Regions from separate parts of the Homo sapiens genome. Here all the other regions are linked to region 1. The links come from fine-mapping of genetic effects on plasma protein levels. Region 1 holds a variant in brackets. A gene starts in each other region. All regions are shown on their reverse strands. Region 1 holds the start of LYSET (lysosomal enzyme trafficking factor). Region 2 holds the start of ARSA (arylsulfatase A). Region 3 holds the start of CTSZ (cathepsin Z). Region 4 holds the start of GALNT3 (polypeptide N-acetylgalactosaminyltransferase 3). Region 5 holds the start of ASAH1 (N-acylsphingosine amidohydrolase 1). Region 6 holds the start of SMPDL3A (sphingomyelin phosphodiesterase acid like 3A).

What was found. PIP is the chance, under the fine-mapping model, that this variant and not a neighbour inherited with it causes the effect. The UK Biobank Pharma Proteomics Project read protein levels with antibody pairs (Olink). The fine-mapping took linkage between variants from a reference panel, not from the people measured, so its PIPs are less certain.
Region 2: it holds the start of ARSA, and the variant in region 1 is fine-mapped to the plasma level of the ARSA protein (UK Biobank, PIP above 0.99).
Region 3: CTSZ starts here. The variant in region 1 is fine-mapped to the plasma level of the CTSZ protein (UK Biobank, PIP above 0.99).
Region 4: GALNT3 starts here. The variant in region 1 is fine-mapped to the plasma level of the GALNT3 protein (UK Biobank, PIP above 0.99).
Region 5: it holds the start of ASAH1, and the variant in region 1 is fine-mapped to the plasma level of the ASAH1 protein (UK Biobank, PIP 0.95).
Region 6: it holds the start of SMPDL3A, and the variant in region 1 is fine-mapped to the plasma level of the SMPDL3A protein (UK Biobank, PIP above 0.99).

Annotation. Positions count from the first base shown.
Region 1 is chr14:93,185,057-93,190,076 of GRCh38, reverse strand. LYSET (lysosomal enzyme trafficking factor) reads right to left here and starts at 4,760. Exons shown (of 2, transcript NM_001098621.4): 1 at 4,592-4,760; 2 at 1,614-3,817. The coding sequence starts at 4,671. The coding sequence ends at 3,406. The variant C/A (reference allele first, on the strand shown) is at 3,448.
Region 2 is chr22:50,627,965-50,633,188 of GRCh38, reverse strand. ARSA (arylsulfatase A) reads left to right here and starts at 5,037. Exons shown (of 8, transcript NM_000487.6): 1 at 5,037-5,224. LOC124905149 (a long non-coding RNA gene) reads right to left here and starts at 1,695. Exons shown (of 2, transcript XR_007068161.1): 1 at 1-1,695. RefSeq lists a silencer at 4,953-5,142.
Region 3 is chr20:59,002,624-59,008,040 of GRCh38, reverse strand. CTSZ (cathepsin Z) reads left to right here and starts at 787. Exons shown (of 6, transcript NM_001336.4): 1 at 787-1,055; 2 at 1,556-1,719. The coding sequence starts at 913. RefSeq lists enhancers at 1-43, 724-1,535, 2,684-2,993, 3,234-3,293, 3,304-3,353 and a silencer at 504-1,103.
Region 4 is chr2:165,791,341-165,796,757 of GRCh38, reverse strand. GALNT3 (polypeptide N-acetylgalactosaminyltransferase 3) reads left to right here and starts at 2,511. Exons shown (of 11, transcript NM_004482.4): 1 at 2,511-2,743. It overlaps LOC124906086, which reads right to left and starts at 3,172. Exons shown (of 6, transcript XM_047446887.1): 1 at 2,966-3,172; 2 at 2,421-2,839; 3 at 1,679-1,958. The coding sequence starts at 3,172. RefSeq lists silencers at 2,569-2,718, 2,789-2,878 and enhancers at 1,949-2,854, 2,855-3,761.
Region 5 is chr8:18,081,502-18,084,517 of GRCh38, reverse strand. It overlaps ASAH1 (N-acylsphingosine amidohydrolase 1), which reads left to right and starts at 411. Exons shown (of 14, transcript NM_177924.5): 1 at 411-537. The coding sequence starts at 460. RefSeq lists enhancers at 1-44, 845-954 and a silencer at 295-494.
Region 6 is chr6:122,786,621-122,792,037 of GRCh38, reverse strand. SMPDL3A (sphingomyelin phosphodiesterase acid like 3A) reads right to left here and starts at 2,780. Exons shown (of 8, transcript NM_006714.5): 1 at 2,580-2,780. The coding sequence starts at 2,691. RefSeq lists a cis regulatory region at 780, enhancers at 696-865, 1,969-2,468, 2,469-2,970 and silencers at 1,060-1,354, 2,460-2,754.

The sequences.
Region 1 (5,020 bases):
TTGAAAGATAGAGATGGACTGAACATTTGCTTACCAAATCCCAAAATACTAGAATTTGAAGTATAAAAAGAGATGAATCAACTTCATTAAGAAAACTTTGCAATACCAGTGGCAACCTCACAAACCTTGCATTACATAACCTTTTTTTTTTTTTTTTTTTTTTTTTGCAATGGAATCTTGCTCTTGTGGCCCATGCGATCTTGGCTCACTGCCACTCTCCCTCCTGGGTTCAAGCGATTCTCCTCCCTCAGCCTCCTGAGTAGCTGGGATTACAGGCATGCACCACCAGCCGTGGCTAATTTTTCTATTTTTAGTAGAGACAGGGTTTCACCACGTTGGCCAGGCTGGTCTTGAACTCCTGGCTTCAAGTGATCTGCCCACCTCAGACTCCCAAAGTGCTGGGAGTAGCATGAGCCACCCCTTTTTAATAGAAATGGGGTCTCGCCATGTTGCCCAGGCTGGTCATGAACTCCTGGGCTCAGGCTATCCTCCCATCTCTGCCTCCCAAAGTGCTAGGATTACAGATGCCACCACTCCCAGCCTACATAAAGCATTTATAAAACAAAACAAAACTGAAATAATTTTCTTAAATCACTGCCTCAAGACTAATAAAACTGGCAACTCTCAATGATTTCCCTCAAATTACTCTCCTTTTTGAGAAGCAGTATAGAATGATAAAAAGCTGGAGATCTGAAGCCAACATCCTAGGTTCAAATCGGCTCTTTCACATACTGGCTATGTGACTATGGACAAGTTATTCCTACGTGTTTCAGGTTTCTTCTGTAAAATGACACTAGTAGCAGTATAATACCTGCCTCCCAGGACTGTTGTGAAGAATAAATGTAAATCACTCATAAACAATGTCTGTAACATGCATACTGAATACTTAAAAGATGCAAGTGATTTGGTCATCTGACCCTCACAAAAACAAGTATTTCAAACTGCTGCTTACTTTGAGGATTCCACGTGTTATATCAAAAGATATATCATTTCAGTAACTAGACCTTTGGAGGCAGTGAGATAAATGAGACTAATTGATCTGAAGGATCTGATCTGCTACTTTTACATCACAAAGGTACCTGCTTTATCTTTTAAGTAACAGCTTGCTATGGAATACTCAGCCTTCCTTTCGGGTTCAGTCAGATGTAGTGGAAAGATGAGGTTGCTAGGAAACTTTCAGATTTCTAGTAGACAAATAGAGAAAAACTTGTCAATACTATTGCCATTTCCATTCTTTGGCATGACTGGGCAAAGAGTACCCAGTGCTAAAACATTTGTCATTTGTGAGAAGCGCTATGCCTCTGTGGTTAGTAACGATGGCGTTAGAATGCCTGGTTATAACCCTGGCTCTGCTACTCGCTGTGACCTTTGGCAAGTTACTTGACTTCTCTGCCTCAGTTTCCTTATCTGTGAAATCTGGATAATAATACCCATCTTATAGGGTTGTTGGGAGGATTACATTAGTTAATTTCCATAAAGCTCTTAGAATAGGGCCCAACAGAATAAGCATCAAAAAGTGTTGATTATTAAAAGCATAAAATGTTTTCCAGTATTAATGACATAACTGTATAAAAATATATCTTGATCTCATGCAGAAAAGAAATGCTACTGTGTCCATGTTTTAGTTATTTGTATTAGTACCAGATGTGAGGTAGTACAAATGCAAAGGAGAAGGTACAGGAACACATCTTCATGTAATTAACCTACTGCCTGATGACCTGACCTTGGGCCAGAAAAGAAAATCAGAAAGATTATGACTTGATAGCATCTTTTAGAGGGGTCTCATGCATCTGATAAGGACTGGACTAAATTACCTGCTATAGGCTGGCCATGGTGGCTCATGCCTGTTATCCTAGTACTTTGGGAGGCTGAGGTGTATCACTTGAGGTCAGGAGTTCGGGACCAGCCTGGACAACATGGTGAAACCCCGTCTCTACTAAAAATACAAAAATTAGCCAGGCATGGTGGTGGGTGCCTGTAATCCCAGCTACTCGGGAGTCTGAGGCAGGAGAATAGCATGAACCTGGGAGGTGGAGGTTGCAGTGAGCTGAGATCGCACTTCTGCACACCAGTCTGGGCTACAGAGCAAGACTCCATCTCAAAATAAATAACATAAATAAATACAGCTAGGCATGGTGGCTCATGCCTGTAATCCCAGGCCTTTGGGAGGCTGACGCAAGTGGATTACCTTAGTTAGGTGAGGAGTTTGAGACCAGCCTGGCCAACATGCTGCAACCCTGTCTCTACTAAAATAACAAAAATCAGCCAGGCATGGTGGTGGTCACCTGTAATCCCAGCTACTCAGGAGGCTGAGGCAAGAGAATCGCTTAAACCCGAGAGGTGGAGGTTGCAGTGAGCCGAAGGTTCCAGTGAGCCAAGACTGCACCACTGCACTCCATCCTGGGTGACAAAGCAAGGCTCCGTCTCAAAAATAATAATAATAATTTAAATAAATAATAAATAACCTGCTAGATTTTCATTGAACACATTGTTTCCATCTTCTATTTGTAAGTTATTTCTAGCCTTTCAACATTTAACACTTAGTTTCTTCCCAGATAGTTTTCTAAATCAGTAGCATTGGAGCGTACGTTCTCAGGGCCTTCTGAGACTGTGTCACAAGTCATGGAAAAAAAAAATTTTTTTAATTAAAAATAGCTGGGCATGGTAGCTCACACCTGTAATCCTAGCACTTAGGGAGCCAGAGAGAGGAGGAAAGCTTGAGCCCAGGAGTTCGAGACCTGCCTGGGCAACATAGCGAGACCCCATTCTCCACAAAAAAGAAAAATATAAAAAATAAAACCATTAAAAGCATTAATAATAATTTAGCCATTACCAAGAGGAAGAACAAATTCTGCTTATCAAGACAGCCATTTCCTCAATAATTTTTTAGCAATGCCTCATAAGCTGACAGCAAGTCTAGACAGCTGGCTTAGCTGCAATAGAATGAATCGGTGTTTTAAGTGTGAAGAATTTTAAAGCAAGCCAAGTAATTGTATAAAATTTAAATTTTATGATCATGTCTGGACCTTTTTACACTTAACACAATGGAAATGTTCATATTCATTTTTTTCCCCAAAGGAAAAATTTCTGAATCATCACTATGTTGCACAGTAGAATAGAAATATGAATTCAGGTACTTAGTCAAGTTTCTAAAGAATGCAAATAACAGACATGATTTAACTTCCAAAATCTGAAGTCATCAACATGATTTTGTAGTACTCTATCTCAGGTTTTACCTAAAAATTCGTTATTATTCAGATAAAGATAGCTCCCTAATCACATGTTTTTAAAAAGCCTCTGCCCCACGACAACTTCCTGAGATCTGTGAAGAAACTGCAGTCTTGTGATCAGACTCCATATAGGACTGGCAGTTTTGTAATCGTAGGGAAAAAACGGTGACTGATTTTACGTGTCAATCAGTTGTAGTCTGCTGATCTGATTAGAAGC[C/A]TTGACAAATGCCTGGTGGCGATTGCAAATAACTGCCAAGCATATAGGGATGATACAGTAGCCCACTGTTTTGGGATCAGCTCTTGTACAAGAGTATAGGAACAAAAACATCTGTAAGTAAGGTACCAGAAAAATAACTGTCCACACCCAAAAAGGCAAGGAGAGTAATTGAGCTTTCAAGGAGTGTGTCCATGTGGTTCCTTCAAGGGGCTCCTCAGGGTGCTGTTGAATGTGTTCCAAGGCCAGCCTGTTGTAAGTCTCACTGATTTCAAAAACATAGTAAAATGCTGCTGCACTGGCTAACAGATACAATCCCACTCCAATCCATCCCATCCGCTGACGGAAGTTCATCATTCTCCATGCTCTGTGCCTTCAAATTAAAAAAGAAAATACAATTAGGGTCTAGTAATGCTGTCACGGCAACTACTCCAAATGTACTTGCTTTATCTCCAAGAATTCTAGGCCGGGCGCGGTGGCTCGCGCCTGTAATCCCAGCACTTTGGGAGGCTGAGGCGGGTGGATCACGAGGTCAGGTGATAGAGACCATCCTGGCTAACATGGTGAAATCCCGTCTCTACTAAAAATACAAAAAAAATAGCCGGGCGTGGTGGCGGGCACCTGTAGTCCCAGCTACTCGGGAGGCTGAGGCAGGAGAATGGCGTGAACCCAGGAGGCAGAGCTTGCAGAGAGCCGAGATCACGCCACTGCACTCCAGCCTGGGCGACAGAGCGAGACTCTGTCTAATTAAAAAAAAAAAAAAAGAATTCTAAAATATCCCACTAACACACTTAAGATTTAAAATAATTAAATTAAACACCTATTAAGAAATGTAAAACTTACAGGTTGTTTTGTGTAATACTTACAATCAAGTAAAACAACACACACAAAAAAACAAAAAACCATTGATTTCAGTATATACTGAGTTCTGCTTTTTAACGGGAATCCCTCAGAATAAATCACTGCATCCTACTTAAACAGGTCCATAATACCCGCCCTCCAGAAACTGGAATTAAACTAGTTTCTCACAGCACATTTCACTTTGACAGGTGAAACACTTTCTGGCATAACAGTACTGCTTCAGACGTGAACGCGGGGTGCTACAAGTCAAGCCCCCAAGTTAAGACAGTAACTCCTAAGCACTTACAATGGTCCCGAAAATCTTCCTGTTCCCACGGCAAGCGTTAAAGAGTCACTCAGCTCTGAATAATCGGGTGGCTTTGGCATTTCAGAGAAAGCCAACATAAAATAAATCCCCTGGGTCACCCGGCTAGGAGAAAGGTGAGCGCCGCCAGCCTGGAGCACCAGCTACTAGTGATTAAGAACGGCGTGACTGCGGCGGGTCACGCGCGGCCCGGCCCCCGTCGCCGCCGCCGGAGACCCGCTCTGAGAACCTGACCCGGCAGGGAGGCGTCCCCGCCACTTGGGCCTCCGGGCGGCCGGCCCCGCCCCCTGCCGCGCTGCAGCGCCGGCACGCCGCGACCAAGGCTGCGCAGGCGGCGCCAGGCCCGGGCCTCGCCGCCTTGCAGCGCCGCGAGCCCAGCGCCCGTCAGCGGTCGCCGGCGGAGCCTGCTTG
Region 2 (5,224 bases), not on the chromosome of region 1:
TGGAGGGGGAAAGGGTCAACAACAAATGAGTTCCGCACAAAGTCAAAAGTTGGCTGGGTGCGTGGCTCACGCTGGTAATCCCAGCACTTTGGGAGGCCGAGGCAGCCGGATCACAAGGTCAGGAGTTCGAGACCAGCCTGGCCAACACGGTGAAACCCCATGTCTACTAAAAATACAAAAAAAAAAAAGAAAAAAAAAGAAAATTAGCTGGGCGTGGTGGCTCACACCTGTAATCCCAGCACTCTGGGAGGCCAAGGCGGGAGGATCACGAGGTCAGGAGTTCGAGACCAGCCTGGCCAACATGGTGAAACCCCATCTCTACTAAAAATACACACACACAAAAAAATCAGCCGGGCGTGGTGGCTCACACCTGTAATCCCAGCTACTCCAGAGGCTGAGGCAGGAGAATTGCTTAAACCCAGGAGGCAGAGGGTGCAGTGAGCCAAGATCATGCCACTGCACTCCAGCCTGGGCGACAGAGCAAGACTCCGTCTCCAAAAAAAAAACAAAAGAAAGAATTCAAAAGTCACACAAATATCAAACCAAAAGGGACTGGTTCCTCTATTGGGAATTGAACCCAGGCCATGGTAGTGAAAGTACAGAATTTTAAGTAGTTTCCAAGATGCAGCAGTCTTCATTGTGAATCCTGCAGGGATCCAAAGCAATGGTTTGCGCGCACAAAGGATTTTAACTTGTTACAGGTCAGATTTTTGCTCTTTAATTTTGTGAAGAGGATTTCTAAGGCTAGCCACAACATTATTATGTGTCTTTCCTTTAATCTCCCCACAAATACAAATAAGGCAATTGTTTAGAATGAGAGACCTCTAAAATCTTTTTTTTTTTTTAATTTAGGGATCTTTCTAATGTAAAGGATTCATCTTTTGGCTATTGACAATCAGAATTTCCAATGATGTATTTATTCCAATAGCAACTCAATCCAAGAAGCCCCTTCATGGAAAGCCCAAAAGATTATTTTCCAGGTTTAGAGAGGGCATAGAAGAGGAGGTTCCAATGATGCCCCCAAAATTCACTCCCAGGAATAGGCAAAGACAGCAAAAGACTCTTGTTCCCAGAGACAGTTAAGGAACGTGTTTGTACATACAGTGCCTCCAGTAACACACAATCTGTCAGGGGCTGCCAGTCACAGACCCATTAACCTGTAACACAGGGTAGGCCTGTTGGGATTGGGCTTTCTGAGGACTGACCAGGCAACAAACATTGGGATGACAAAAGCCCCTTATGGATGGGCCTGAGGAGAGCAAAAACCACCTGGCGACCATCAAACATCAAACAGGCCCTCCGAGGCAAAACTCCTTATCTGGGGAAAATCAAAAGTAACTAAACCTCCCTATTATCTAAAGCAGGCATCTGGTTCCAGATTTCTTCCCCCAAAAAACGTGTAAGTAACTATAATTTCTATGTGTCTCCAGAATACCATGACGAAACTCACTGTACAACCGTCGCTGACATTAAGGCACCAAAATTACTATAAATGTAATCATTTATCATGACTTACGTGGCTAATATGGTCCAAATTACTGTTAAGCCTCCACTTTAAGGCCTATAAATGCCCTTAAGGAGAAATCCACCCGGCGTACTCAGTCCTCTTGCTGAGGCACCTCATTGCACTCTTCTGCAGCATTCTAATAAACTTTCTTTCTTTTCTTTTTTTTTCTTTTTTTTTTTTTTGAGATGGAGTTTCACTCTTGTTGCCCAGGCTGGAGTGCAATGGTATGATCTCAGCTCACCACAACCTCCATCTCCCAGGTTCAAGCGATTCTCCTGCCTCAGCCTCCCAAGTAGCTGGGAATACAGGCTCCCGACACCATGCCCAGCTAATTTTTTGTATTTTTAGTAGAGATGGGGTTTCATCATGTTGGCCAGGCTGGTCTTGAACTCCTGCCCTCAGGTGATCCACCTGCCTCAGCATCCCAAAGTGCTGGGATTACAGGCGTGAGCCACCGTGCCCGGCAAACTTTCTTTTTTCTTTTTTTTTTTGAGACAGTCTTGCTCTGTCTCAGCTCACTGCAACCTCCGCCTCCCAGGTTCAAGCAATTCTCCTGCCTCAGCCTTCCAAGTAGCTGGGATTACAGCCACGCACCACCACACCTGGCTAAGTTTTATACTTTCAGTAGAGACAGGGTTTCTCCATGTTGGCCAGGCTGGTCTCAAACTCCTGACCTCAGGTGATCCACCCACCTTGGACTTCCAAAGTGCTGAGAGTACAAGCATGAGCCACTATGCCCGGCCAAACTTTCCTTTTTCAAACCTATTGTCGGTAAACTCTTTTTACCAACCCGCAAGTTGACCACCACTCCCAGTGCCGGGGCTCTGACAGCTCGCCTGGCAGGGACTTCTTAAGACAAACTAAAAGCTTGACACATTCAGAACAAAAACGGTGCTGCTTAAAATATTAAATGTCTTGGGTTCCCAACCATTTTCAGACTGACCACAAAATGTGACCTGCGAGTCACTACCTCGGATTGGCAGAGGCCAAGAGAGTGCTCCTGAGGTAGGAGGTGGGACTTAGTTGACCCAGTTGAGGATTGGCTAAAACAGGGTTGGGGCAATAGCAGCTTTCAGTCAGATATGCCCGCCACTGTGCCATGTCAGTTTACCATTGCCATGGCAACACCCAGGAGTTGCCACCCCTTTCCATGGCAATGACCCAATGATGACTACTCCTTCCCTAGAAACTTCTGCATAAACCATCCTTTAATCTACATGCAATCAAAAGTGCGTATAAATGTGACTGCAAAACTGCCCTGAGCTGCTACTCTCAGCCTACGGGGTGGCCCTGCTCTGCAGGAGCAGTCACAGAGCTCTAACGCCACCTGTTCAATAAAGCTGTTTTCTTCTACCTCTGGCTTGTCTTTGAATTCTTTCCTGGGCAAAGCCAAAACCCTCACTGGCTAAGCTCCACTCTGGGGTCTGCCTGGCCTGCATCATTCCCACTCGCTCACAACTCAAGCTTTCAAGGACATCAAAAGAGAGGAGAATCTCATCCAGTTTTCAGTTCAGGGACCCACAGCAAAGTCTGTCTAACTAGACGCATCCGATCAGAGCTGCAAAACTGACTAGCCTGCAGGACGGCCCCAAGACGGGGTTTACAGGGGTTTTAGGCCTGTGTTCTACCCTCTTTATGACAGAAAAACACAGAAAGACAAGAATGAAAGACGACTATTTCTGGGGAAAAAAAGCAATCAAACAATATGAATACAAAACTAATCACATAAATACATTTCTCTCATTAAAACTTTGAAGAGGAAAACAAGGTAAACAGACATTTTTACCGTCGGCTTGACAAGATTCCAGAGAGGCCGGGAGCCTGGCTGCTAAGACCTTCTTACCCTTCTTTCTGCCAGCTTGTCGGCTCCTGGGTTCCCCTGACGGAGGCTCCCAGGAGAGTGACTTTAGTTATCCTACCGACTGCACCAAAACTGTAGGAGCCTAGAGAAAAACTTTTCTGCATTCTGAGTTCACAGAAAATCAACTGACAAAAGCCAGGTTAGTAAGAAAAAAGGCATACAGATTTATTCATGCACACAGGGAGAACCAGAGTGATGACCCCAACCTCCCAATGGGGTTCGGAAGCTTATATACCATCTTGAGGTTACAGAAAGAACATGGGCTCAAAGTATGGCCACAGTTTATGGTGGAAAATCAGGTGACCAGTGGCAAGACCGGTTACAGGAGGGAGAGCAGAGGAGGCCTGGCTAGCAAAGGTGGCCTTGTTCTACAGATGAAACCTCACAGGTAGCAGCCCTGAGAGAGAACAGATGGTGAATGTTCCCTTCAGGCCTTTAAAGGCGTCAGACTGTTACTCTTCCCAGATCAGGCAAGGAGGGCCTCAGAGGAGGCCTGGCCGCATCAGTGTAGATTCTCTCCACAGATGCAAATCTCCCCCACAAAAGACAGCTTTTCAGCTATTCTTCTATTTCCAGTCCTTCTGAGTAACTGTCTTGAACCGTGTCAAGGAAATATATTTGGAGGTGACATATTGTGTTTTCCTTCAAGATCAAAAAGGTTAAGTCCAAGGCTGCCCAACGAGGGAGCGAGGACCCAATCACGTTGTCCTCAGATGAGTTTTTCCCCAGCAGCGTAACCCTGCAACAGGCCAGACTGGACCCCAGACACACATTCCACACCACACCACGCCTCCACCACCACACGCACACAACAGACACACCCTAAACACCAGACACACACACACACCTCAACCACCGCAAACACACATACGCCACACCTCTAACACCACACACACCCAACACCACACACATACGTGCCTCAAACACTACACACACCTCAACCACCATACACCTCAACCACACACACCCCTCAAACACCAAACACACCCCTCAACCACACACACACACCCCTCAAACACCACACACCCACCTCAAACACCACACACACATATCCCTCAAACACTACAAAAACACACACACACACCTCAAACACCACACATGCACACACACCTGAAACACCACACACCTGCCTCAAACACTCCACACACACCACACACAGACACGTACACAGCCCCCCGCACCCAGCCACAGCTTACACGCACACAGACACGCGTACGCAGGAGAAAGGGTGTCAAAGCTTTTGCTAGTCGTGAAGGAAGAGCCCGCAGTCCATGGGGCTGCACGGTTTTCCCTGCCATTTGCTCATTCACCGGGTGCCCATAACGCTCCGCGCTCAGGTCTCTTACAGGAGGGCCCGAGTCTCCCAGTACCGGAGGTCTGGGGGCGCACGAGCCGCTCCTCCTCTGGAGAAGCTCCGGACCGAGAGGACACCGGACACTGCGCAGCGCCGAGCCCCGCGCGCAGCCCGGGACGCCTCAGCCAGGGCCGACCGCGCAGAGGAAGCTCCCAGAGCCCGTTTCAAGACCGCAGCCAACAGCCTCAGGCGCACACGGCGGCCTCGGAGCGAGCACGCGCAGCAACGCCCCTCGCCCCGGCCCGCCCCCGGCCCCGCCCCCGGCCCCGCCCCCGGCCCCGCCCCGCAAGGGTCACAGGTCACGGGGCGGGGCCGAGGCGGAAGCGCCCGCAGCCCGGTACCGGCTCCTCCTGGGCTCCCTCTAGCGCCTTCCCCCCGGCCCGACTCCGCTGGTCAGCGCCAAGTGACTTACGCCCCCGACCCTGAGCCCGGACCGCTAGGCGAGGAGGATCAGATCTCCGCTCGAGAATCTGAAGGTGCCCTGGTCCTGGAGGAGTTCCGT
Region 3 (5,417 bases), not on the chromosome of region 1:
GGTCGCAGCCCAGAATGCCGGGCCCTGTTCTTACCAGAGAAGAAGGCCATGGTGTGGGCCCAAGGGCCATGACAAACAGAGGGGCCGCAGGGAGCGAGAAGCCCTCCCCCAGTTACAAAACCACGTCCTGGGGGGCCACTTCTGCTTTTGGTTCCTCATTTGACTAAGAAGAGTTTCGTTAGCAGAAAACCTTTTCAAGGCGTCTTTGGAAGTCACATTGGATAACTCCTGATGCCTGCGCCAAGTGGAATCTTCCTTTGGGGCATTTTCTAGAAGGATCCCTCCTTCCTTCTCTGCAAAAGGGAACCGTCCCCCCGAAAGGGCCTGGGCCTTTGGGAAAAGGGGTTTAGAAAGCCAGGCGCGGGGACCCTTCTTTGGGGGCGGTGGCCGCATCCCAGGATCCCTTCCTAGGGGAGGCCTGGGCCCAGATGTGAGGCTGGGGGCCTCTCCCCAGGGCTCAGGGCCCCAGGAATGCAGGGCCAAGGGGGCCCATGAGCCTGCGGCCCCCCACCCCGAAGCCAGGAACCCCGGCAAATGAGTCCAGCCGGACAGTCCCGCGCTCAGGGCGGCGGCCGGCGGCGGGGTCAGGCTGGGGTCTGCCCGGCGACCTCGCGCCTGGCCCGCGAGTTCAGGTGCCCCGGAGCCAGGGAGGGAGCGGGGCGCGGAGCCGGGCGGGGAGGGCAGGGGTCACCGGGCGGGGCAGGAGCAGCGATGGGACAGCCCCGCCCCGGGGGAGTGTCCCGGCCTGGCCGCCGCAGCCTTAAGGGCCGGGCGGGGCAGGGGCCCAAAGTGCGGGGTCGGCCGGGTGCTGGGCCGAGGCCGAGGCCGGGGCGGGATCCAGAGCGGGAGCCGGCGCGGGATCTGGGACTCGGAGCGGGATCCGGAGCGGGACCCAGGAGCCGGCGCGGGGCCATGGCGAGGCGCGGGCCAGGGTGGCGGCCGCTTCTGCTGCTCGTGCTGCTGGCGGGCGCGGCGCAGGGCGGCCTCTACTTCCGCCGGGGACAGACCTGCTACCGGCCTCTGCGGGGGGACGGGCTGGCTCCGCTGGGGCGCAGGTGGGCACCGGCGGGGAGGCAGCCCTGGGGGGACGGGAGGCCCATCGCCCGGGCCAGGCGCGCGCTCTGCCTCCTGGGGGCCCTGCGTCGCCAACAGGCCTTGGAAGGTCAGATCCAGCCGCTTCGTTTTGGGGGTCGCTCCTTCTCTTCCACATCCAGGGTGAGCCCTGATGTTTGTGGGGTTGGACAAGCCCCACCTGGCCAGAAAGCCAGGCCAGCCCCACCTCCTCGGCCTCTGGGGGTGGCCCTTACGGCGCGGCATGGCTGGGGGAGCAACCCGGTTCCCTCCTTTCGGGGGTGCCCTGCCTCCTTCACATTCTGAGAGCGCTGGAGCCTCCTAGTGTGAGGTGGGCCCACACCTGGCTCACCTCTGGTGATTGTGGCCCCACTCCCATGCCCTCAGGTGTTGGGAAAGGCGGGAGGGCCCTACCGAGGGCTTCCTGGGCCCACGGCCCCCGGGAGCCCCAGCACCGATCTGGGTGGGGATGATCTCTTCTCAGCACATACCCCCGGCCTCATGAGTACCTGTCCCCAGCGGATCTGCCCAAGAGCTGGGACTGGCGCAATGTGGATGGTGTCAACTATGCCAGCATCACCCGGAACCAGCACATCCCCCAATACTGCGGCTCCTGCTGGGCCCACGCCAGCACCAGCGCTATGGCGGGTGAGTGGCCGCCCTTTGACTGTGGGCCAGGAAAGCCCATCCCGGCTGCCTGTTTATAGGCCCAGGCAGCTCAGCCCGCGGTTCCAGGGGCCTGTGATTCAAGGCCAGGTCAGCCTGGGCTGGGGTGCTAAGGCCGAGGAGCGCGGGCCTTTGCCCTCTGCTGAGGTGACCCAAGCTGGGTCATTCTGGGGCTTTTGGGTGACAGGCAGGACTAGGACTGAATCCCAGTGACAAGTGGCTGCCAGGTGCCCTCTCTCCCCCAAAGCTTGTGACCTCAGCCATTGGGATAGAAACAGAAATGCAAAATCACTGAGTCCCCAGGCTGTATTTGAGGATACAGAAGTAAACTGCTTCTCAGCACAGATGAAAGCCTGTCCTGGGCTTGGAATATTGGGTGAGGCTAGTTGGCTACAGCCCATGGCCTAACCTGGTCACTACCTCCAGCCTGGTGGGTTTCTATCTTAGGCTTTTGGCAGGAGTAGGGTAGGGAGGCTCTTAGCAAAGAGGAAGGGGAAACTAAGGCCCTCCCTATCAACGAGGCTGCTGCACCCTGCTTTGGGAGAGAAGGCGGGAGAAGGGACAGCTGCAAACCAGCCCCAGGCCCACCCCACAGCATTTGGAAGGGACTCTGCTATCCCCTCTCCAGTCACAGCACAGGGTCCAGGAGCCTGGATTTCCCCTGGAGATGGGACTTGCGTGGCCTGGGAGTTTGGCCCATGAGCACTGTGGTGCTGTTGCCTCTTCCCTGGCCTTGGTCCTCATGGGTCAGGCCTGCTGTACACCCATGTGAAAAGGATAGACTACAGTGTGGCTGCCGCTGTGGGCCAAGGCTGGGGGACATGCGTTTGCGTGTGCTCCATCTCACTGACGCCTCCTCAATGCCATGATTGCTTCCAGTTTGCAGATGAGGAAGCAGGCTTTTTGCAGAGAGATGGGGAGGCTTGAGCATAGTGTGAGTGACAGCTGAGATTTGAGCCCGGAAGCCTGGGCTTTGTGCCAGGATGTCTGATGGGCTCAGTCTTGTGAATGAGGGGTTCTTGCTCTGGGGGTAGGGTCTGGACCCCAGAGCCAGCCAGCTGAAGCTGTGGCATCCGTGGCGTCTCCCCCGGGGGCTGGAACACACTTCTGATCGTTCAAAGGTCCCTTTGATGTGGATGGAGCTGGAAGGTCTGGGAGACCTTGGGCGGGCTGCAGGGTGTGGGTGGGGCTAGAGGCAGAGGACTGGGCAGAGTCTAGGGGAAGTGTCCAGGCCTGGCACCCGCTGAGGAAGTGAAAGAGCCTTTGAGGGTGGGGTGAGGGTGAGGGGAGAATAGAAAGGTCAACAGGTGCCTGTGGGAAGCCTTGAACTCTTTGAGAGGGAGTCAGGTGACAAGATGTGCGTCTGTGAAGGACTGCGGGTAGAAAGGAGATGGCTTTCAGATGGATGTGGGACCCTGGCCAGGGGTCAGCCCTGCCGCATTTCCCCAGGGGACTCTCTCTGGGCGGATGACTGCTTCACCCCACTTTCTCCTGAAACCTCCTTCTCAGCGCACCCAGGCCCAGGCACTCGCTTCCTCTTTCACTGAGGAATAGAAGCCACCAGAAGGGGACTTCCACGGGGCCCTGGCCATTTGCCAGCCAAGGCAGCAGGTCCTCCATTTGTCTTCCCTCCTCTCCCCCAGGATCAACTGTCTTGTCCCCTCACTGAGCCCGTCCCTTCCCACTCAGGGAAGCTCTCCCACCTGGAAAAAAGGAACACAAAGCCCCCGGCCCCACCCCGCCCCAATTCTGGGCTCCCTAGGGAAGTATCTGGAGTCCCTCCACTTCCTCTTCTCTACCCTTGAACCCACTCCAGCCTCAGTCCCACCTCTGCCACTCCACCGGCACTGTTCTTTCCACTGCCACCTGGGGCCCACCGTGAAGCATTCTCCTGATCACGTCTCCCCAGGATGCTTCCTTCTCCTGCACCATACTGCCCGCCTCCACCTCCCTGGCCACTCCTTCCCCTCTCCCCAGCTGTCTGCTCCTCAGAGTTCTGAGTGTCAGCTTCCCCAGGACCAACCCTTCACCTGAACTCAGCTTGACATCCACCTGCCCACTCGCCCGCTGTCCCGGTCACCTGACACCTCCAGCCTCAGACCTTCAGGTCTGGATGGCTCCTTCCACTACTGTCACCTGACAGCCCATTTCTTCCCCAGTCCTCCCTGGCTGTCCTTCCGGCTATGCAGGCAAAAGCCTGGACTGGTACCCGACTCCTCTGTTTTCTGTCCCTCATATAATCCACCCACAAGTCTTGTCGGTTCTACCTTCGAAGCAGATGCAGAAATCACGCACCGCCCACCGCCTCCTCCAGGTCTAAGCCACACCGCCCCACTGCCGACTGCCCTCACTGGTCTCCTGGCCTCTGCCCCTGAGGCCACAGTGAGCCTGTGACAACCCATCAGAACATGTTCTTTGGCTTGAAACCCTCTCAGGATTCCACTCAGATAAAAGACAGAACCCTCTGGCCTTCAAGAGCCTTCACCATCGGGCTCCCTCCCAGTCCGCCCTTGCTCCCCTGCTCCTGCGGAGAGTGGAGCAGGGAGGTAGCTTCTCCCACCAGGCACCTCCTCTCTCCCTGAGGTCCCATGGCTCCCTCCCTCCCTCCTATGGATGTCACCTCAGCGGGGTCTTCCTCAGCCACCCTATGCATATGACACCCCACTTCCTGAATTATCTCCCGGATTTATTTTTCTTCATGGTGCTGTAGACTTTGCACAGTTACAGATGCTCCTTGACTTAACTGTGGGGTCATGTCCCGACAACCCCCTCGTAAGTTGAAAACACCATGAGTGGAAAATGTGTTTGACACACCCAGCCTCCTGCACACCCTGGCCTGGCTTTGTCTGCATTAAACGTATTCAGGACACTTGTGTTAGCCCACAGTGTGAGTAATAAGCCCGTTCCCAGATGGGGCTGGTGGGATGAAGGATTGAGTTTGGCCGTGGGAGAAGCTTGTGCATACCTCAGTGAGCTGGTTAGGCCGGGTCCAGATGCTTCAGGCAGGAGTAGACGGAGAGGCCAGAACCGAAACTGCTCATCCATCCGAGCTCTGCCTCTGGGCCAGGACTGCTGTCGCCGGGTTGGGTTGGGCATAGAAGGATAGGGCTCGGGGGCAGGCCATGGGACGCCCTGCACTGCCAAGTGGAACTCCAGAAGCCCAGGCAGGAGGTGCTTCCAGAAGGATGGAGCGACCGCTGTGCTGACTGCTGCCGGAGAGTGGTCAGCTCGGATGACAGTGGAGAAGTGACCTTTAGCAAGAGAGAAAGGGCTGAAGAGGAGCGGGGCAGTAGGGGTCGGGGCACTGTCTCAAACCATTGAGTGAAGCAGAAAACCGTGATAGTGAGTGGGAGGGGCCGGGGGCTTCCTCTGTTGTTGTGAGAAAGGCAAGTTTGGGGTGTGCAGATCTGCTTAGAGGGGGCATAGCTGACAAGGGAGCGGGGAGAAGGAAAGCTGGAGGGAGCCAAGTCCTTGGGAGGAAACAGGATGGAACCTAGGGTGGGTCGGTCAGGTGGGAGGGGACAAACCAGCCACCGGCTGCTCCAGGAAGAGGGTTTGGGGTGCAGAGCATGGGCAGGCTGGGTGGCGGCAGGATGGAGGTCTGCTTTGGGACTTTTCAGTGATGCGTGAAGTCACCAGAGCAGGGACAGTTCCAGAAGGCCCCTGGCTGGGCGACCGGG
Region 4 (5,417 bases), not on the chromosome of region 1:
AAATATTTCAATATGATAATATTTTTTTCTTGGGCCTGCAGCATTTTAATTTTATTGTCACATAGAAAATTTTTTATTAATATTAAGACTTTGCTTTCAGAATGCTTTGAAATAGTACAAGCAACGTTGTGTAAAATAGTACAGGTGGAGCATCCCTAATCCACAGATCCAAAATCTGAAATGTTCCAAAATTCAAAACTTTTTGAGCACCAACATGACACCACAAGTTGAAAATTCCACACATAAGTACTTTACACAAACTTTGTTTCATGCATAAAATTATTTACAATGTTTTATAAAATTACCTTAAGGCTATGTGTATAAGGTGTATATGAAACATAAATGAATTTTGTGTTTAGACAGGTCTCATCCCCAAGATATCTCTCTCTCTCTCTCTCTCACTCTCTCTCACTCTCTCTCTTTCTCTCTCTCTATATATATGACACTCAACGTGCACAAGTAATGCCACACTCAGAAAAACTGCTTCCTTCTTTAAATTGTCTGTCTCCATTGTAAAACTGACAGTCAAATTTTAGTAACTCCTGATCTTTTTTGTTTCTTCTGTTCTTTTTAGACTCCTCATCCAGCATTTTGGTCCTGTTTGCTGGCTCTCTCTTTTAATAGGTCTACCCTAGCTTCTCTTTTCAGTTGTTATTTGACGTTACTAGTCTTGCTGTCAATGCATCTCAGTCCTTGGATTCCAGATTGTTATTCTATATCCATCTGCTCTGTCCTGATTGTCAGTGAAAAGTGTTGCTCTTCGCCTGGTGGGACATCAAAACTCTGACAATCTTTGGCTCTTCATTCAGAGATGGGTGGTGCGTGCAAAAGGGTACAGGTTTCTTGGTTATACATTTAGGATACCTTACAAATTTTCCAAAGACTAACATTAACCTCTGGTTAGGGGTAAACGACAAAGTGGCACAACGAAGAAGAAGGAGAAGGAGAAGAGAATTTCAGTAGTTAGTATTTTCAGTTCTGGACCTGGACCTAAGGAAAAACACTGCCAAGTTAGTATATCAATACACACAAGTATCTCCTGAACTATTTTTTTGTTTGTTTGTTTTTGGAGGGAAAGGGAGCTTGGCAATTGCTTGTAGGTACTGATATTAAAATGTTGCAAATACATGGAGGTTCCTTGGTGCTCGCAAAATAACCATGACATGTAAAACAAGCAAAGAACTACCTAGTTTACTAAAGTCTTAAACCCTAACTCATAGATGTCCTAGTATAAAATAGCACTATGGATGCTAAAACCAATGTCTTAGAGTAGTCAAATACTAAAGATACACTTGTTGATACTATACTAAACTGTATTTTAAACCTTATTTTTAGGTCACGCATAGCACTAATAAAACAGTGAATAAGCACCATAAGAGCATGTCAAAATGTAGGAGGAAGGCCACAACTAAACTTCATAGTAAAACCTACCACCATGTGATTAAACACGACACCAAAAAGTTTTTAGCTAGTTTTCTATTTATATCCCTAGATATCTTTGGGATAGGGCCAAAGAAATGAGTTCATAGAAAGGTATAAAGGCCATTTTAAGTCCTGGTTTTGGGTGTGTCAATGTTTGTTGCAGCAGCAGAAGGAAGGCTGAAACAGAAAGTTGTGTCATAAATGGAACAAATACTGTTTAACAATTTTTTTTTGTCTTAAAAACAGCAAAACCCACCATCTTCCTGGAGTCTGCGTTGTTCTCTTCCAGAATAGATGTTGAGCTTTTAAACAAACCTGCAGTAGAAGCAAGCCCTCTCCAGGAAATCCCAATCTCTTTCCAAACAGGGACAGCAAAGGTTCTCTCTGTTGTGGCTGTTTTTCCCTCTCTTCTGGGAATTGGTTTGCCTTCTGAGAGCATCCCAGGAAGGGGAGGTGCGCCCCAAATTGGCGAGGCTCTGCCAAATACCAAAGGCTCTTCTTTGGAAGAAGACTCCTCCTTTGGACGTGAGGCGCCCCTACCAGAGCGCCCGCGTACAGAAACGGAAACCACTAGCTGCGCTGAAGTGAGTCAAGTGATGAAATCAAGACTACACGGGAAGGAAGCTCACGAAACCTAACTGGTGACAGAAGCTGCTGAACCCTGCCCGAAGAAACCACATGAGCCAGCAGTTGCTGCCCTCCCGAAGTGGTCCTCGGAGGCAGCGCACCCCTTCATTTTGGCGAACCGAGGAGGAAGGGAGGAACCGTGTGGGGGAAATCTAGAACTTCTGGTTCCCCAAGGACCCAGCAGACTGTGTTCTGGCTACAAGGTGATCACTGCCACCAGGTCAGTGCAGGATTCCTCCAATGTAGATGGGCCGGGAGCCACAACTTGCGCGGAGCAGCAGCCTCGCCGACCACTCAGAGAGAAGCCGCGCGACAGCCAGGCTTGGCCCGGACGGCGCCCCCACCCTGCGCGCGCGATCCAAGGTTCTCACCTGGAGCGCTCAGGTAGGGCTGGGGCGGGGCGGGAGGCTGGCGCGCAGGCGCGGAAGTGGGGCCTCGCCCCTGCCGACGTCGCAGGCTGGAGCTCACCTGGGAGACTCCAAGTGGAAGCCGAGCCTCGGTTCTGCCTCTCCAGGCAACGCGGGAGGCCCAGCGGGAAGGCAGGAGGCGGCGGCGGAGGAGGAGCTCTACTGAGCCGCAACTGTGGCGACAGCAACCGGAGTCGCAGCCGCCGCCACCTGCACCTGGCGCCTAGCCCACGTCCAGCGCCTGCCCGGCCGCCGCTTCCCGCCACCCTGCCCTGCCCACCCGCCAGGTAAGCCGGCGGCAGGCGGAGGGAGACGCGGTACCCCTGGGCTGCGTTAGAGCAGGCGGGAGGACGGCCGCAGGGGTTCACGTGTTGGGGACAGGGCTACGGTCCAGGTGGCCGGTTGGAGACGGTCTCGAGAGCAGTGTGTCGGTTGCCCCTGGAGAGATCCCGAAAGGGGCGCCCTGGGCCAAGGGGCAGGTGGCGCCTCGGGGGGGAGCCCGGTCACACCCTCTCGCCCACGGTGCCCCCGCCAGTCCCTATGGGGCGGCCCCTGAGGAGCTGGACGGAGACCAAAGACCTGGTGGCCCCGGACTTGCCCTTGGGAGGGTCGCAGCGTGGGGACCCTGAGAGGGAGGGCCCGGCGGGAGGCGGGCGCGCTTCCACTCCGGCTAGCAGGTTGCCTGTCTCCTCCAGCCTCTCTGCCCGAGAGGACATCCCGCGACAGCGAAAGACATGGCTTTGCCAGGCAACTTTCCTAGCCGGGGACCCCAAACAGTTCTAGGCTGCAAACCGCGGCCGCCGAGCCATTTAAATGGTTTCCGAGTGGTTTGGAAAGGGCTCTGTGGCCGGGACGCGGACACCCCTCTCTCTCTGTTTCGACTCTGCACTTTTCCGGGTGCGCTCTCCAGGCCAGAGTTGGGCCCACTTTCCTGATCAATGGAGAAGAGTTCTTTTCTTCCGTGGCGGGAAGAAATCCAACTGCCACGCACCAACCACTCACCATCTCGTTAGAGGACCTGTTGACTTAAGGACCTGCATATCGCGGCTATGGTTTGCCTGTGGCATATGACTCAAAGGTTCAAAAAAACATTGTTTCAGGATCCTGCCACGTCTAAGCTTGGGTGTGCCAGGCCCAGATTCCTTTCCCTGCCTAATTAGGCTTTTCTGAAGCCTAAGAATTGAGGGTGAAACTGGCGCTTACCTTAGACTTTTATTTCCTTCTCTTTCCAACTCATCAAAGAAACTATTTCTGTTTTAAGAACCCCATCGAGTTACCAATATTTCCGATTCTTGAAAACGTTAACATAACTTGCTATAGAAGTTACACTACATAATGAAGACATTTACAGTCAAATTCTATAGCTAAAAAATATTAAAGTGACAGCATTTTAATTAGAAAATCTCTGCTTGTGGGAAAATCTGTTGCTTCTTTTATTGTATATATTTTTCTTTGCGTTTGTGGCTAAAATCCATGAGGTTAAAGTCACACGCTGCCATTAGATTCTTTTTTTTAATTTAACTTTTAATATCTGAAATCTAGTGCACATGTTAAACTTTCCAAGCAATTTGTACCGAGAATCAATCTTTATATATTGCTTTAACCAACATTTTTACGTAGAAGTTTCTGATAATAATAACAATTCCATTGTTTTGTTCTATCTCCACACATTTTAAAAATATTTTTTAAATTGCACGTTTTACTTAAAATGCCTGATGCAACATGTAGTGGGGTTATTTTTCTTCTTCTTTTTAAGATTAGATGGAAATCTAAAAGCCAACCACAGCATAACATGATGTAATTATTAATTCAATCACCACTTTTCTACATTTCTTAAAAGGATCTCACCTGACCTCTTAATCTTGTCTCCATACAGAGAAACAAATGTGCTAAATACTGTTTAAATATGAGATATAGGAGTTGTTCCCTGAATTTTGAATATTAGTCTTCATTACTTACTAGGCAGATGTTACCAGACTGTCTTTCCTCTTAACCTCTAGTGAGAAATGTAACATGTTTTCATTAGCTAGAGTAACAGTGTAACTTAATCTATCTGTTAAATAGGAAAAATAATACTTTCCTAGATTAAGATAACAAAACCTTAAAAACAATCAGGAGTATCTTCCAGCCCTAGCATTCTCGAGATCCCTTTCTCACTTTGGAGATTCAATACTCAAACCATCCATTTATGAAAAATTGAAGCCAAGAGAGGTATTCTAACTTCATTTCACTCAGAGATGGCATGATCATTCCAGTGGCTTGACTCATGACTCCTGTATCTTACTTTTCACCACCCACATCCTCACTTACCATAAGATGTTTATCTTTTTTCTTTCATATAATTTGTAAGGCCTTTGTAATTACAGAATTGTCCATTGCTCTTTCTTCACTCTGATTTACCCTCATTTCTACTTGTCCAAATATTGCCTGACTTCGTGGAAACTACCCAGTGAAGGCATCATGCTCCTCTCATTGTGGAATAGCATGCATATTGATGATGCCATGTCAGTTGAGACTTTTAGTTCCTTCTTGGTATTTCCAAGCCACAGTTAATTTTTTAAGTCAATGTGGATAACATTATTTAGTCTTCTGATCTTTTTATTATATTGGCTTAAAATATATTTTATGAGGCAGCTACCCAGTGCCTTTCATCCATTTGCAACACTCCAGATTTTTTATTTCAAGCACACTTCCTTAACACTAAGTTTCTTTAAACTTTTTTTTCCTTTTACTGCAATCCTCAATAACTAATTTATTCTCTGCCTCAACTCTGTAAACTCCAATGTGAGTGTATATAAATGAAACAAGTTTTATTAATATAAAACAGTGCTTAACCTTACAACATGTATGTTCTTTATTATTTTATTTTTAAAAACGTTGGTCTAAACAATTAGACTGCTTTATGACCACGAAAGTGCTGGAGCCCTCAATGTGAAAATAGCACTATTCTGTTGAATTTTT
Region 5 (3,016 bases), not on the chromosome of region 1:
GTTACATTAGTGTTGAGACTCTTTGGATCCGTTTCGTGGGTACCGAGGACGCCTGGGTACGCGGGACAGGCTGCACCCGCCTGCTAGAGGCGCCCCATCGAGGCGCCACGGGTGAAGCTCCCGGCCCCACCTACGGGGCGGGGCTCCGGCTCGGTCCGACTATTGCCCGCGGTGGGGGAGGGGGATGGATCACGCCACGCGCCAAAGGCGATCGCGACTCTCCTTCTGCAGGTAGCCTGGAAGGCTCTCTCTCTTTCTCTACGCCACCCTTTTCGTGGCACTGAAAAGCCCCGTCCTCTCCTCCCAGTCCCGCCTCCTCCGAGCGTTCCCCCTACTGCCTGGAATGGTGCGGTCCCAGGTCGCGGGTCACGCGGCGGAGGGGGCGTGGCCTGCCCCCGGCCCAGCCGGCTCTTCTTTGCCTCTGCTGGAGTCCGGGGAGTGGCGTTGGCTGCTAGAGCGATGCCGGGCCGGAGTTGCGTCGCCTTAGTCCTCCTGGCTGCCGCCGTCAGCTGTGCCGTCGCGCAGCACGCGCCGCCGGTGAGTGAGCTTGAGCCGAGGCGCAGAGAGGGGCGTGCAGGTGCGGGCGCGGATGGAGGCGCAGGTGTGGCGGCGCGAGCGGGTACAAGGAACACCTCGTGCTGGGCAGCTTCTTTACGGGGGTCTGTGGTTTCGTGCACAGGGGTGTGGGTGCAGAGCGGGCTGGCGAACCCCGTCCTCGGTAGATTCGGTGCTACCTGCAACTAGAACTCCTTTAAAGGAAATCCTAGTCTCTGCAGGATACCTGGGTGTGATTCGCACATTCTTAGATTTGAGTGAGTGTACTTGAATAACCAGTTCCAGGCCCTTGCATTTTGAAGTGTTTAAATAAAATGTTCCGGTGGACCTGTGTGCATTACTCAATCAAGGACAGACTGCCTGATGGTCAGGTGCTTTCTCCCGAAGAAGTTCAGGAGTTCAGCCCAGGATACTGCAGGGCCGTGGGAAACGCTGAGTGGTCCCAAGCTTGGGCGGTGCGAGCAGCCCAGAGCAGGCCCCAAAGGGCCCCCTGTGGCCTTTTGCACCCAAGTCATGGGATCGCCTGTCCCGTGGCTCTTTCCCACGAGCAAGTCACAGGGCTACGGACTTCCTAACTGCAAGAGACAGTGAGGGACGAGCGTGACTCTTTCATTTTACAGAAGAGGAAGTAGACCTAGAGTGAGAAAATATTTAGCCAGAGGTTACACTGTTGTTTACTGAACATGCGTAACGTCCGAGCCTCTTGACGCCCAGTACTCTTTCATAATTCATTTCTTTATAAAGCAATCAGACTGCGTTTGTCTTTGCCAACAGAATCGGATAAGTAGGAACCTGGCGCATCTGGCCTGAGGCTAGATGGTGATGGTCTTGAATAGTTTAGGTAGGTTATTGAAAGTGGAAGCAAGATGTGCATTGTCTTCTTTTATACCTGTAAGGAGAAATTCTTTAAAATCATGGTGGGATATGATTTAGCCATTAAAATTGATATAATGTTCAGCAGATAAAAGTAGAATCCAGAATAGTATATACAGTTTTTCCTGTAATAGGAAAATACACAGAACATGTATGTGGACACGATTAAAGGCCTTAAAATAAAATTGCTCCATTGTGGGTAGGGAATTAATTTGCTTGACGGTAGTTGGTTTTATGGGAATTGGGAGAGACTTTGATACTTTGATACTGTCAGGGCCCTTCATTGAAAGACCACCAGGAACACACCATAAGCTGAACAAATTGGGTTTAGTGTTCTTTGAGGCAAAGGAGACCACACACCATGAGCGACGGACGGTAGGTTATAGAAAAAAACCCATTACAGAATTTGAACTTCGGTTGCATGATTTGGGGTAAGACTGAGGAACCGGGCTTTGCTGTAGATAGAATGCTGTTAGAAGGTGGGGCAATTCTGACTGAGTAAAGAAGGAACAGCCATTCTGTTTAGCACGAGAAGGGGATGTTTGGTGTTTTGTGCGTTGCAGGTGCCCTTGTTTTTGTCTGTTCTTAGAGAAAATCTTCAAGTGGCATTGCTTTGTCTTGGTGTGTCATGTCTCAGAATAATCTTATCCGACGTAGGTATCTGTGGGATTGTTGATGTCCAGGAGGAAAACAGAGCTTACCTGGCTGTGAGTGTCAGATCGGCTTGTAATAATATTGAGAGATAGCTGTGGGACTCAGAGCAGTTTCAGGTGTTGGAGGCTGTTTTTTCTTCTTTCTCAATAGCTTTATTTATTCTAGCAAAAGTATTTTGATAGCTATTTTCAGAAGAAGAATTAACAACCTCTCAATGGATATAATAGTTCTTATCTAGAACAGCGATTATCAAAGTCTAGTCTGGCCACTGGTGTCACTTTGGGAAGCTGTTTTCACAGGTTTTCAATGAAACTGGAAAAATAAGAATGCAAAACTAAAATTATTAATTTAGAATGTTAATCTTTACTCTGATTGTATGGACTTCAAGTTTTCATTGTTGCAAACGTGTTCTTAAAAATAACGGCAGAGGTAGATGTTATGTGCATGGAATTTGTTTTGTTTTAACATCTCCATTTGGCAGAATAAAAATTTGGACCCTCCTGTGCCAAGGCCTCATTAATTTTTTTTTACTGGCCTGGAAAATCCTGGGATCCATGCACTGAAGGACCTTTAGAACCTTACAGAAGTTTAGTGACTTCATTCTCTGAGAAGAATAAGCAGTTTTTCAACTGGAGTCATTATATGATAAACTATAGCCTCATGGTAACAAAAGATATTTCAAAAGTACTTTCAATAAATATGAATAATGAGAAGCAGCTTTAAATTGGAAACAAGTCATTTGATTTAGAACATCTGTAAGGATTTTTTGTGTGTTTGTTTTTGAGGCTTTTCACAATATTCCTATGTGAAGGTCCTCCTGAGTTATTCTTCATTATTGAATTTTTTAGGAGTCTATTAAGAGATGATGGTGAAGACAGTGGCACAAGAAATGTCTGGAGAGATAGCGCCAGATGACATCATCCAGGGTTCTGTA
Region 6 (5,417 bases), not on the chromosome of region 1:
CAGCACGTTTTCCTGTTCTGCAGACTATCTTTAAAAAGATTTCCAAGTCGGGCGCGGTGGCTCATGCCTGTAATCCCAGCACTTTGGGAGGCTGAGATGGGCAGATCACGAGGTCAGGAAATTGAGACCATCCTGGCTAACACGGTGAAACCCCGTCTCTACTAAAAGTACAAAAAATTAGCCAGGCATGGTGGCGGGCGCCTGTAGTCCCAGCTACTCGGGAGGCTGAGGCAGGAGAATGGCGTGAACCCGGGAGGCGGAGTTTGCAGTGAGCCGAGATTGCGCCACTGCAGTCCAGCCTGGGTGACAGGGCGAGACTGTCTCAAAATAAAAAATAAAATAAAATAATAAAATAAATTTTTAAAAAGACTTCCAAAAATATGTGTGTGTGTTCAGCAAATCTAGAAAAACTCTCAAAATTATACCAGAAAATCTTTTAATCCAAAATATTTTATAACTTCTCAAGAATCCAATGAACCATAGTTCAGACATAATTCAGCTCGCCTTATGCCTTATTTGAACATAGTTTGAACACTCAGCAGTATATGAATGGTTGAAGTATGGCTGCTGGGATTGGCCAAACTTAGCTATTGTTACCAGTGCATACTCTTAAGTTAGGTTTTCAGTCTCATCTGACTATTAAGCTAGGTTACAGTTCATTCACAAGGATTCAAATATAGAAGTAAGGAGTCCTTCTCAGGCCGTATTTAGTTTGCTTTAACAGTACCAATACACAAGCCAGTCCCAGCCTACTCAATCTAAAGAACTGTAGCCAAAAACACACAGGTGAAGCTTCCTAGAACTTCTGTCGTCCGACCACCAGGACTTGACAGGGCAGAAAACTAAGACTGGGAATTTAAACGCAAAAACACAAAACAAGAAAGCAGTAGCCAGGCAGGGTGGATGCTGAAAGGAAGTCCAAGCATGTGGGGCTGAGAGGAGGCAGGAGAGTTGTCACATCAAGTGGAAAATACGCAAAATATTACAAACAAGGAGAATTGTGAAACTGCTGAGTGAACACTTCAGACCTTTGAACTCCAGTAACACTTCAGACTTTCGAACTCCAGTGACTCCAGTAACACTTCAGACCACTGAACTCCAGTAACCCCTCTTCCTTCCCCTTTAGTAGGAGGGGATTCAACCTTGCAGTTTCCCAAACAGGAGGTGTGAAGACTCACAGAGTCCCCAGAAAGCGCTCATTCAGGCCTCTTTAAAACACAGGTGAATTTGCCATTGTGTGGCCTCAAGCAACGTGAGACATTTTATTTCAAAACCCTAACCGGTCACATAATTAAAGGAACACAAGCTAAGCCGTAATAAAAGCAGAAACCAGTATACATAAACATTTTGGGGAAATTTCTTGTAATGACTGACATTTGCCACAGTTCGGAAACCAGATTTACAGTTTTTGCTTCAGACCTGACAGCTGAGTCGTGAGGACTTGGCCTTCAAAGAGAAGATATTTGCCCTAGAGCGCTCCCAAGTCCTGAGAAAGCACAGAGGGAGCGAAAGAGGTTTCAGCACTAGGTGCTGCTACCGAGTCTCAGGGACAACTCTCCCCTAAAAGAAAACAGAACCCCACTTCTCTAATTTTGTTTTTCCTCTTAACAGTGCAATTATTTTTAAAGGGAGTTGAGGAGGTGAGGGCACCTTGATTTTTGGAACTGGAGGCTCGGATGGCATTGTACAATCTCCCACCAAAATGTATCTATTCTGGACCAGTGAGTCTCAAACTTAGCCGAAAGGAATCATGCGGAGGGTGGGTTAAACAGCATACTGTGGAAGCCCAACGCCGGCGTTTCAGATTCAGTAGGTCTGGGATGGGCTGGAAATTTGCAATGCTAACAATTTTAAGTGCGGCGGCTGCTGCCACCGGTCCAGGGCACACTTAAGAGAATCACTACTGTAACGGGCACTGTGTTAAGTGCTGGGAGTGAATAAAATGGGTCCCGCCCGCAGGAAACCTAGTGGACATCCAGGTGAAATGAAGTCCCCGTGAGTTCCACGGTAGACTAAGGGGTGAGTCTACCCGAGGGTGCTTTCGCGCTCTGGCTGGGTGAGTGGCAGAAAAAGCCACTGATCTCGGTCGAGCAAGACAGAAGATAGTGTGAGTCACGCTGAAATTTACTTCCCTGAGCTGGTGGGGAAACTGCAGTCCCCCTCCATTCAGGACCGATTAGGGGCCTCTTGCTGTGCTGGACATCGGACTCCCAGCTTCCTCTTCCCTTGAGTCCCGCAGCTTTTCCTTCCTTCCCCAAGGAACAAAACAACTGAGATGCAGGATGTAAACAAAAGCCAGGCTGGCGAAATCCGGCCGACGCGCCCTTGGAGCGCCCCCACCGGCGAGGGCATTTCCCCCGCCCAGCCCCGGCCTCCCGGCTGGACGCCCTAACGCTGTAGTCCCTTGGTCGCCCTCCCCGCGCCCACCAGCCGTGGTCAACGCCGGACGCGTCAGGGGCCCCGCTAGCCCGAGCCTCTGCCGGGGGCAGCTGCCCCCACGCACTTTCTCCTGCTGTGCGCAGGCGCCGCCGCTCCGCGCTCTTTGCCGGCTGGGAAGAGAAGGGTCGCGGACAACTCACCTATCGCCGGAGGAGGATTCCTGCCGCCTGCGGGCGCCACGGGCAGCCCGAGGCCGGAGCGGCAGTGCCAGGCAGTCAGCAGGCAGCAGACGAGTGCGCGCACCAGCGCCATGGAGGGCCGCGGGGCTGACCTGGAGGTTCGGGCTGTCCCGCAGCTCCACTCGGACCGTCAGGCCTGAGGGTGAGGCGGAGACAGAAGACGGCTGCGGGTGTAGACGTCCGACTGATCACGTGCAAAGGCAGATTCCGCAGCGAGTCAGTTCGCCTGACCTTCAGCTGCTGTTTAGCGATGATCTGTTCTCGTATTTCTTAGCGTCAGTGTTTGGCCTAGGAAGGAATGTACTTGTAGAAGCTCAAATTCCGACTCGTGTATCAGTGGTGCAGTTGATGTCAAACACTGACATACTGGTGCTTGGGGATAGAGAAAGACATTCAATTTAGTAAAAGCCAGAAGGAGGGAGAACAAGATCTCTCAAATCCGTGTGTAAAAAGGAAAAAGCAGGGAGTTTTTATTCTGCTAGAGAATAAGAGAGGGGGATTTTCAAAGAATCCAGGGGAAAAGTCTGTTTCTTCAGTCTCAGATAACACCTTTGAGCAATTAGACGTCCAGGCATCCGCAGCTGGTTGCAAAGCCCTTGGAGGTATTCATCCCTTCTGCAAACATTTTTGTGACCCTGAAGTTAACCTCTTTGTTCTTGACGAGGAAGCAGTACCTCAGCAGTTTATAATTATATTGTGGAAACAAGGAGAATATTGGGCAAAAAGCGAGTGGTTAAAATGTGCAAGCAAGCAGGAGCCTGATCAGAATTTTCATTATTTCAGTCACTAAAAAATGCTGGGGTGCTGAAATCTCAACGATCCCGGTTCCATTCTTGGGCCAACCTACCCCAGCTTTAATGGGTAGGGCTCCTCAGTAGAGGTGATGCAGAGAGCCCTGAAGTATCATGATTTGAAGGAAATCAGCAAAAGTTATGGATACTGCAGTGGATCTCGAATTGAAGTCTCTGAACTGGGAACATTAGCACCACCTGGGAACTCTAGTTAGAAATGCAAATTCCCAGGCACCACCCTAGACCTGTTGAGTCAGAAACCTGCTGGAGCCCAGCAGTTTGTGTTTTCACAAGCATTTCAGGTCATGTTAAAGTGATTGTGATGTTTGAAAACCAATGCTCAAAGATACGACGTTTTGTTTTTTGTTTTTTTTAAACTGCCGGGAAGAGAAGGGTCTTAGAATTAGAACATGTTCTGAAATCATGCTTTATGCATTCCAGAGATGCATGGAAATCATAAGTAGAGGTGGTTGATTTGATGCTTCCACGGAACTTTTTTGAATATACTTCTGGCAAAGAAGTAAGTCTATACAAAGAAGTAAGCAAAGATAAGTCTGGCAAAGAAGTAAGTCTATACAAAGAAGTAAGCAAAGATAAGTCTGGCAAAGAAGCCAGAATCCCGAAACTGTGCTGGATCCTGTATTCTGTGTTCCTTCTCTCACCGTTTATGAGGATGCTGATCTCTTGGAGATGACAAGCTAATAATTTAAATTTATAGGGCGTGGAATTCCTTTGCAGAAGAAAATGCTTTCCATAATTACTAACCTCAAAAAAGATGTTGTAGAGTGTATTTCTTTCCCAGCATAGAAAGCTTTGTTTTGTATCCCATGTAATTTAATGGGAGTGTGTGTCATGAAACGGGCTTTGAAGTGGGAAGCAAGGTGCTTCCATTTTCTGTTTTGTAAACCAAAAATAAAATTTGAAGGCCCCCCACAACCATCTGAATGGACGACCATCTGTATGGACTCTTTCCCCAGTCAGGGCACTCTAAAATTTAACCTGAAAGACTGGTTCAGGCCATGAAAAAGGGGATGGGGGGGTTGGACATGCGTAATTAACATCAACATAGACCATAAGTCTGATAAGAAACATTTAAGATCTGTTTTCTCTAAAGCCTGCTACGTGGAGGCTTCGTCTGTGTGACAAAATCTGGGTCTAACAACCCCTTATCATAACCCAGACATCCTTTCTATTGATAATAACTTTTTCAATCAACCAATTGCCAATCAGGACATGTTTAAATCTTCCTGTGATCTGGAAACACCCACCCCCCGCCCAGCTTCAAGTTGTCCTGCCCGTCTAGATCGAACCAATGTAAAAATCTTACATGTATTGATTGCTGTATCATGTCTCCCTAAAATGTATAAAAGCAAGCTGTATCCTGACCACCTTGGGCACATGTCAAGACCTCCTGAGGCTGTGTCACTGGCCCATCCTTAACCTTGGCAAAATAAACTTCCTAAATTGATTGAGACCTGTCTCAGGTACTTTTGTGTTACAGTTTCAAGTCCTGCCAGGGCAGCCGAAGTCCTGCTTCAGCTTTTGGATGATTCAAAAGCTTGCAAGAACCAAAGTGCATTCCAGTGGAGGACAAGATGGTCCCTGGAGTTTCTCAGTTCACAACCTCTAGAATATGGGAGAAAATGGAGCCAGAAAAAACTGGTGAGCTGGTGAGAGAAAACGACTGTAAGGATTAACAAAACAACTTAGGAGTTTTTAGTCCAAACATTTAAAGCTAGGAAAAGGATAAATTATAAAAATAGCTCTTTTCACTCCTTTTTTTTTTTTTTCCAATTTCAATATACTTTACTGGAAGTAACTGGTTGCAAAATAGTTTTTCAGTAAGCATAAAACAAGGCATACACATTTTGAAACTTAAGAAATGTTTGAAATCCTAAAAAGTACAGTATATTAAAATTAGTGGGTAGAAACACCATCCTTCTTTCTACTCACTCCACTTTCTTTTTTTTTTTCTTAATACTCACTAAGAAGCAAAAAACTACAGTGC